Regions from separate parts of the Homo sapiens genome. Here region 1 is linked to region 2. The links come from fine-mapping of genetic effects on gene expression. A gene starts in region 2. The other region holds a variant in brackets. All regions are shown on one strand. Distances are from middle to middle. Region 1 overlaps TM4SF1-AS1 (TM4SF1 antisense RNA 1). Region 2 holds the start of TM4SF1-AS1 (TM4SF1 antisense RNA 1).

The links. PIP is the estimated chance that this variant, and not a neighbour inherited with it, causes the effect.
Region 1: its variant is the best candidate, but not a certain one, in a credible set for the expression of TM4SF1-AS1 in subcutaneous fat (GTEx, PIP 0.67).

The regions. Positions count from the first base shown.
Region 1 is chr3:149,385,022-149,389,413 of GRCh38, reverse strand. It overlaps TM4SF1-AS1 (TM4SF1 antisense RNA 1), which reads right to left. Exons shown (of 2, transcript NR_109810.1): 2 at 2,831-3,042. Among named protein-coding and RNA genes, the nearest start is that of TM4SF1-AS1, 9.4 kb to the right of the region's middle. RefSeq lists an enhancer at 1,447-2,646. The variant C/G (reference allele first, on the strand shown) is at 2,255.
Region 2 is chr3:149,375,953-149,380,344 of GRCh38, reverse strand. It overlaps TM4SF1-AS1 (TM4SF1 antisense RNA 1), which reads right to left and starts at 2,567. Exons shown (of 2, transcript NR_109810.1): 1 at 2,030-2,567. It overlaps TM4SF1 (transmembrane 4 L six family member 1), which reads left to right and starts at 2,696. Exons shown (of 5, transcript NM_014220.3): 1 at 2,696-2,974. The coding sequence starts at 2,798.

The DNA.
Region 1 (4,392 bases), 9.1 kb before region 2:
CACCACCTTCATCAAGTGATTCAAGTAAACATCGCTTGTAGTAGACTAAGGGGTATGGTAAACCACCTCATAGGATGCAATGAGAACACAGCATCACCATGGCCAACTTTATCATGTCCCCGCCAAATCCCTGACTCCTAGTATTCACATCCTCATATAATCCCCTCCTCTTGAGTGTGGGTGGGACCTGTGACTTGCTTCTAATCAATAAGATAAGGCAAAGGTGATGGGATGTCACTCCTGTGATTGTGTTACATTATGTAAGGATCTGTCTTGCTGGTAGACTCACTCTAGAGTCTTGCTCTCCTGCTGACTTCGAAAAATCATGAGTCCTACAAATACTAGGAAATAAATTCTGCCAACAACCTGAGTAAGCTTCAAAGTGAATCCTTTCCCAGTAGAGCTGGGGACAGAGACCAACACCCCTCTCAGCCAGGAGCATGTCTCTAATATGTAAACTAACCAGACCAGATCCTTATCTCTTCTATTTGGCTATACACACAAGAGGTAACCCTTCTCTGCTTTAGTCATTCCAAGGCCAGGTACCAGGCAACTAGGGGACACCTCTATGGCTTAGAGCCTATGGAAAGTATTCAAACCTAAACAGTTCATCTTGCCCTGCTTTTCACATGACCATGGGCCTGGATCTCCTCTCACTCCTGCCCCTCTGCCTCCTGGCCACCCCAGAGCTTTCCCCCAAGGCCCTTTGTGGTGTCCTGTGCCTCTTGTCTTTAGGATCTGTGAGTACAGTAAACTGTGTTTTCCTGAGCCTCCTTATATGTCCTCTTGTGACCTCACCTGAATGATCATCTCATGAAAGAACACAGAACACCAGCACAAAATATTCCATAATCATCTCATATTGTTGTTTCAGCCCTGATATCAGCCACCACTTCTCCGAAGTCCAAAGTGCCTTCATTCCTTTCATTGGAGAACCATATTTAGAAACCAATATCTAGGCACTACGTGTATTTTACCTATAATGGTATTAACACTCGTGGTAATACTTGTTCTCTTCAGACCAGTTCCTCCAGGTTGGAGGCAACACCGTACAGTGATTAAGAGGCTCTGGATCTAGACTGCCTGAATTAAAATTCTGGCCACGCTGGACAATCTGTGAAGCCTTGGGAAAGGCACTTAAGCTCTTACAGTTTTATACCCTGTGTGATAGTGTTTACGATAGCACCTACCTCAGAAGGTTGCTGTGGAACGTAGTAAGATATGAGTGTGACGCTCTTAGACTCATGCCTGACATTCAGGGATTACTCAGTAAATATTTGTTGGGTGAATGATCCTTATGTTGATCAGAAGCTCTAACTGAAGAATGAAAATGAGGGGGAAATCTTGCTCCACGTCCTTTTCAGACAATAATTAACGTATTGATTTGTCAGAGATCTCATCCTCCTGTGAGACTATCTTCCTTTAAGACTTTAAGAATTCCCTGTAATAATCTTTTTAGTTGTCTTTAATGTATTGACAACCTAGAAGAAATCCCTGTAAAATGTCACATATGTGATCTAGAAGGAAAAAAAATGCTTTCCACTTACACTTGTTTATGTTCTTCCTTCTTCTTCATTAAAAAAATAGAAAAGAACTCACACAAGCCTGGTGCCAAACCTGGATGTGTCTCTGTGTCCAGGACTCTGATTCCTAAAAACATCGAGTCATTATAGAAGACATCAGGACCACTGAGAAGACAGTCAGGAAATCAGAGGGGGAGAAGGTCAAGAAGGACGAGGCCCTGCAATCCTTTTTATTCCCCTGGTGTCCTCAGGATGGTGAATAAGAACTCTAGGAACCTGCACCTGCAAAAGAAGATCCAGGGCAATGTAGAGATTCCACATCCTGAGCTTTCTTTGATGTCTTCTTGCCAGCTATCCCCAATTCCTGATTTAGTTCCTCTTAGGGACAGCTATTCTGAAGGGTCTCATCAGAGAAGCTTATTTGGTTTCTATTGGACAAGGAATACATGCATTATAAACATTCCAGATAATGTTTATGTTTCAAATTGGTTTTTCAGTTCCTTTGCAATTCTTGCTCAAGTTTTCCTCACCTTCTAAGTCTGAAAAAGTAATTTCCAAATCATGGTGAAGGCATTATTGAAAAATCAGGACCTTGTAGAATCTTACAGTCATTTGGCCAGGCTAACGGTTTAACCTGAAAGTGGAATGGATTTCCCATCCGGGTTCCCATAGTGAACAACTATGTTTTTGTAACATAACACAATGAAGGGAGTTGTCACTAGATGACTCAG[C/G]TAGTTAGAATCTCAACTCCCTTTCTGGGGAGGAAATCTGAAGCACGGTGTTTGTATTAGAGGCTAGGGTCATGCTTATTTGGACTTCAGTTCTCCCGCATCAAAGCCAGTCAGAGACTATGAACAGGTAGGGGGAAGGAAGGTCAACTGTCCACCTGGGCCAGAAGAGCAAGAAGTGTAGCCAAACCAAATCTGACATTTTTTTGGGTGTCTGTCTTTCTAACACATATGCTCACTCGTTCTGTCTCTCTCTCTCTCTCTCTCTCACACACACACACACACACACACGTTTCAACTCTCCACTGCTGTAAAGCTGTTCTTGGTAAAATTCCCTAGGGCAAAATCAACTGTAACTTGAGTTTTCAACTCACTTAGTATCAGTGGGAAATTTGCCATGTTGGACTTTGACAACCACAAAAACCAGTTTGACTGAGAGTGGCGAGGCCATGAGGTCTAGGTGGAGTATGAACTCACCAACTTGGAATGATTACTTGGAGAATGCTCACACTGCCTCTTATTTATGCTTCTGTCCAAGTCTTTGAGAGTGCTGAAGTCATAGAAATGACCAAACAAATATATAGTACGACACTTTTTAATTCAGAACTCAACCACAAAAAAAATGCTCCTCTGTCACCAGGGATCCCTGGAAAATGGTGTCTAAAAATCAGCTCTGAGCAAACCATCCTCAGTTCTTGTCCTTGTGGCATCTTCAACTCCCAACTGATGGAAATCTCACTGGTCTGAACTTCAAATGGTATGAAAGCAGGAGTGGAGAGTTTCACCCCAACCTTTCTGCAAAAAAGCAAGCATATTTTATATAAGGTCAAAAGGCCATGTGAGGCAGGAGAATAGAGACTGGAGGCAGGGAACCTAAGGCTTTTCACACTGACTTCCTAGAACTAAATTGAAAGGAAAACCCTAACTTTCCATGCCTCAGTAACAGAAGGACCAGAGGCTACTCCCTTTGACCTTTTCTGCGTGGCAGTTGGGAAGTTGTCTGTAAGCGACAAATCAGACTTATTGCTGGTAGAGACTTTGTTTGCAATTTAGTAACTTCACTCCAGACTCTGAATGGTCTGACTGTGGCTCTGATCAGACTGATTGTGGACGGAGTCTTCAGTTTGCATAGAAGTATAACTTTGTAACTTCACCCTACCCTCTGATTGGTTGCTTTTTGCAACCAATCAGATGTTTGCACAGGAGTGTGACCTTTGTAACTTCACTTCATCCTCTGGTTGGCTGCTTTCTGCAAGCAATCAGACTGATTGCGGGCTACCACTTCATTTACATGAGGTAAGCATGAAGTGGCCAATGAGAAACTTCCAGGGGTATTTGGACCCAAGAAGATTCTGTATTTGGGCCCTTGAGCTGGTGCTCGGGCCCACTTCCACACTGTGGAGTGTACTTTCATTTTCAATAAATCCCTGCTTTTGTTCTTTTGTTGCTCCATTCTTTGCTTTGCTGGGCGTTTTGTCCAATTCTTTGTTCAAAACGCCAAGAACCTGGACAACTTGCAATCATGACCAGTGACACAGGTAGGGAAATCCTTTTACAAGTTAGACCAGGGTAAAGGAAATGAAAATAGGCCCTATTATTTCTCTCCTCTACTGAATCTAGACAATTCTTTTAAAAACTTTTCATTGCACACATCTCTTGTTTGTTGATAGTTCTATTTTGCTACAGTAAAACCAAGTTTGTAGAACAGGAGCTGTAGCTTTAATTTTGAGACATCAGGTTAACCTTGAAATCATTCATCGAATTAAAGTAGAATCCAAGTGATTAATGTCTCAAAATTGTGTTATTTAGAAGTGCCAAAGAAACAGTCCCCGAATCTGATCAACATTGTAGTAAAATCAGCCCAGTGTGTGAAGGAAAGAGCATGGGTATGTGAGTCAGGGAGACTTGCGTAGGAGGAATCCAGGCCTAATTACTCGCCAGCCTTGTGACTTTGGCCTGCATGCTTAACCCAGATGAGCTTCAGTTTCCTCACCTGTAAACAGCTTTGCACAACGGAGCTGTAAAGTTAAATGACGGCATCAGAGTGACTTGCATGTGCCCACTCTCCTTCTGCTCCACGCTCCTCTTCCCCTGAATGCACAGAAACTGGATACGTATTACCCAGGAACCCTGAACAGTTT
Region 2 (4,392 bases):
CCTCCCTCCCAGACGGGGCGGCTGGCCGGGCAGAGGGCCCCTCACTTCCCAGTAGGGCGGCCGGGAGAGCCCCCTCACTCCCGGCAGGGCGCTGCGGGGCGGGGGGCTGCTCCCCCACCTCCCTCCGCACGGGGCGGCTGGTCGGGCGGGGGGCTGTCCCCCCACCTCCCTCCGAGACGGGGCGGCTGGCCGGGCGGGGGGCTGACCCCCCACCTCCCTCCTGGACGGGGTGGCTGGCCGGGCAGAGGGGCTCCTCACTTCCCAGTATAAAGGAAAGAAGTTTAATTGACTCACAGTTCTGCATGGTTGGGGAAGCCTTGGGAAACTTTCCATTATAGAGGAAGGTGAAGGAGAAGCAAGACACCTTCTTTTTGTTTTGTTCTTTTTTTGAAACTGAGTCTCGCTCTGTCACCCAGGCTGGAGTGTAGTGGTGCTATCTCGGCTCACTGCAAACTCCGCCTGCCGGGTTCACACCATTCTCCTGCCTCAGCCTCCCCAGTAGCTGGGATTACAGGTGCTCGCCACCACGCCCAGCTAATTTTTGCATTTTTAGTAGAGACAGGGTTTCACCATGTTGGCCAGGATGGTCTCGATCTCCTGACCTTGTGATCCACCCGCCTCGGCCTCCCAAAGTGCTGGGATTACAGGCGTGAGCCACTGCGCCTGGCCGCAAGACACCTTCTTTACAAGGCAACAGGAAAGACAATCATCAAGAGAAGGGGGAAGAGCTCCGTATAAAACTGTCAGATCTCATGAGAACTCACTCACTATCACAAGAACAGCATGGGGGAAACTGCTGCCATGATTCAGTTCCCTCCCCCCAGTCTCTCACTTGACACGTGAGGATTATGGGGATTACAATTCAAGATGAGATTTGGGTGGGGACACAAAGCCTAACCATATCAGTAGTTTAAGCATCACTTTCCCCCATTTTGGCCCCAGGTGGGATAGATCAGCAGACAGGAGGGTTGCAATGATTATGCTTCAACAAAGGATGCCGTCATTCACCCATAGGCTCTGTCACCAGTGGAATCCTGTCTCTAAGCCATCGGGCCAAACACACGTTCCCTGTTGTTGGACACATAGTGGTGACCCAATGACACTCTTATGAGGATTTGCCTGCCTCCGCCTGAGCAGGTGGGTGGTTCCACGCTTCCCAACTCCACTGATTTATTTCCTCAGGCCATCCTGGATTCTGGCTTCACCCCTGTTAGTGTGCTGAGGCCACACTTCTTGGGCCCTCCTCCGGTCCCATGCCACATCACTAACCACAGCTGGTCTCCTCAAATTTGGTATGTGTCCCGCCCTCTAGTTCCGGGCCAAATCCTTCAGACTCTAGATTCGTGAACCTCATTCACCTTCTTCTTCTAAGCTAATGCCTCCCTACCTTGGTCCTTTTCTATTTTCTGTACTCTCTATCTTGTCCTGGTGACAAGGCCCTCCAGGCCTGGCCCCACCCGGCCACCCTGTCCACCTCCCACCACCATCCACTGGCTGGTGCAATCTGCTGTTCAAGGCATAAATTTATTCAGTGCCCAGCCCCTCCTTCTGCAAGGTAACCACCTAGAAAGTTAGTCTAACACCCTTTCTCTGCCCTGTGTGGGGAGCCTGTGGAAGCTGGTCTCAGGATCTGGCTGGGTAAACCATCTGTTTACCTCTGTGTGGGTTCTGACACTCCTAGCCAGTTCTGTTTCTCTGAACCTTGTTTCTCCACTCTGCTTGCCAAGTCCCTTTGTCTTATTTTTTTCTCCCTCTCCCTCCTTCCTTCCCTCCCCCCATCCTTCCTTCCTTTTTTCCTTCCTTCCTTCCTCCCTCCCTCCCTTCCTCCCTTTTTCCCTCTCTCCTTCTCTCCCTCCTTCTCTTCTTTCCTTCCTCTCTTCCTTCCTCCTTTCCTCTTTCCTTCTCTCCCATTCTCTTCCTCCCCCTCTCTTCTTCCTCTTTTTATTTTTGTCCCATGCTTTAGGCCTTCCTTGGCCCTTCCTGGCATTGCTTTTCCTGACAGCAACACTCAATAATTTTTAAAAAGCACCTGAGCCCTTTGTGTTGACTGATGCCACCTCTGTTGTGGTGCAGATTTGTTTTAGAGGCAGATGTCCAGGGACGCTGAACACTGAAATCCATCCTGCAGAGCTTGCTGTAGGCAGAGTAAAGAAGTTTGCTCTGTAGTTTTCCCAACAGCCTTCTCAAATCCATGGGAGACGTCTCAGACACCTTGTATTTAATAGACAAGGAAATGAGCTCAGGAGATTTGCCCCAGGTTGTAAATTAAATCAGCACAAAGGTAGAAATGAACACAGAGCTCTCAGATTGGAAGCTGTCCAGACAGCTGCATGGAGCAGGGGCACAGCTCACTGTCTTTCAAAGCCTCAACCAGGGCTGTTGCATCTCGGACACTTGGCAGTTACTGGAAAGTCATGTTAGGCTTTCCTGTTGATTCTTTATCTTGTGGAGGAGTTGCACAGTCAATGCCTTGTTCAAGATTAATCATTTTCCCTGTTGCCTATGACTGAGGCTGTTTCTCACATCCTGCCCCTGGTTTTGCCTGTCCCAAGGATTTCGTCTGAAGGGCGGGACATTCCCCCTGCCTCTTCGCACCACAGCCAGAGCCTGCCATTAGGACCAATGAAAGCAAAGTACCTCATCCCCTCAGTGACTAAGAATCGCAGTATTTAAGAGGTAGCAGGAATGGGCTGAGAGTGGTGTTTGCTTTCTCCACCAGAAGGGCACACTTTCATCTAATTTGGGGTATCACTGAGCTGAAGACAAAGAGAAGGGGGAGAAAACCTAGCAGACCACCATGTGCTATGGGAAGTGTGCACGATGCATCGGACATTCTCTGGTGGGGCTCGCCCTCCTGTGCATCGCGGCTAATATTTTGCTTTACTTTCCCAATGGGGAAACAAAGTATGCCTCCGAAAACCACCTCAGCCGCTTCGTGTGGTTCTTTTCTGGCATCGTAGGAGGTGGCCTGCTGGTAAGTCATTCAGGATTATTACTGAATTCTCTCCTGTTTCCTAGATGTTTTCATTATGTATTTTCATGGAAAGTTTTTTGTAATGCATATTTCTAAATCAAGTGACTTTTTTGTTGCTGTTCATTCCTTTGAAAGCAGATTATACAAAAGCGAGATTGGTACAGTATAGCGTAGTAATTTTATGAGATGTTGTTTTACAAAATGCTCTTTCAACTAAAAGTGAACTGCCTTTTTGCTAAACTCTATAGGTAGGAAACAGATATTCGCTTTTAAATCAGATTTGAGAGACTATAGAGTTTCTACTAGAACGGGCAGTCATTTAACATTTGCTCTGGGGAGCCGGAAGGGGTTGGCTGGTTCTCTGCCTAAATCAACAGTTTTGAATCCAAATTCTCTGCTGTTTATTTTCAGCCATCTGTGATAGGGAAAAATAATGAATTGTGAGTGCATTGCTATTTTAAAAGAACTCTAAGCTTTCTCCTTTATGTAAGGCTGGGGTGTGGCGTCTAGGAAAAACCCTACAGTTAGCAGCAGGTCGGTGTCTGAAGCTAATAGTGGAATGTGTTATTTTTTCCAAGAATTGTTTTTGATTGAAGTGAGAGGAATTTCCCTGCCAACCTGGGAGCTGAAAGCATTAGCTTCAACCACAGCATGGAAAGAATGTGAGCAAACTTAAGTTTGCTACTTTAAAGTGCTGGGATTAAAAATTTTAAGGAGAAATTTTATGGAATGGTACCATACGTGATAAATTTTCTTAATCAAGTAAAAGATAGTAAAACATTTAAACCTAATACACTGATTATGGCATGGCAAATCTGCCCTAAATTATTTATTTAATGAGATTTTATTTAATTTTATTTTATTTAATGAGACGGGGTTTCGCCATGTTGCCCAGGCTGGTCTTGAACTCATGGGCCCAAGTGACCCTCCTACCTTGGCCTCCCAAAGTGCTGGGATTACAGGCATGAGCCACAGTGCCCGTCTGCCTCAAATTTAAGCATTATTATCATGTTAACATGATTATTTGTCTTAAACATAACATCACACTTAAGTTTCTTTCGATCTTGAACCTGAAGTATTTCATATTTACTATATTTTAAGAGCTTAATATTGTTAAGTTAAAACTATGCATTTGTATAATCAAGGAAGCAGTTAATATTTATTATATATAGCTTTCATGTCTCCCATTTACAAAAAAGTTTCAGTTATTCTATTAAAGATTTGTTGGTATATTCTGCATTTTACAAGTGGAAAAAATCAGATTTAAAGAAAGGGTTTAATATTTCCAAAACAGAGTTTGTTATCTGGGGTCGTGTGATAAACTCTTGTGGAATAAACACGTTTACAGTTTATTATTTTACTCCTCCCATGTTACATCCTCACCCTAAAAAATGCTTTGACAGATTACATGAAAACAA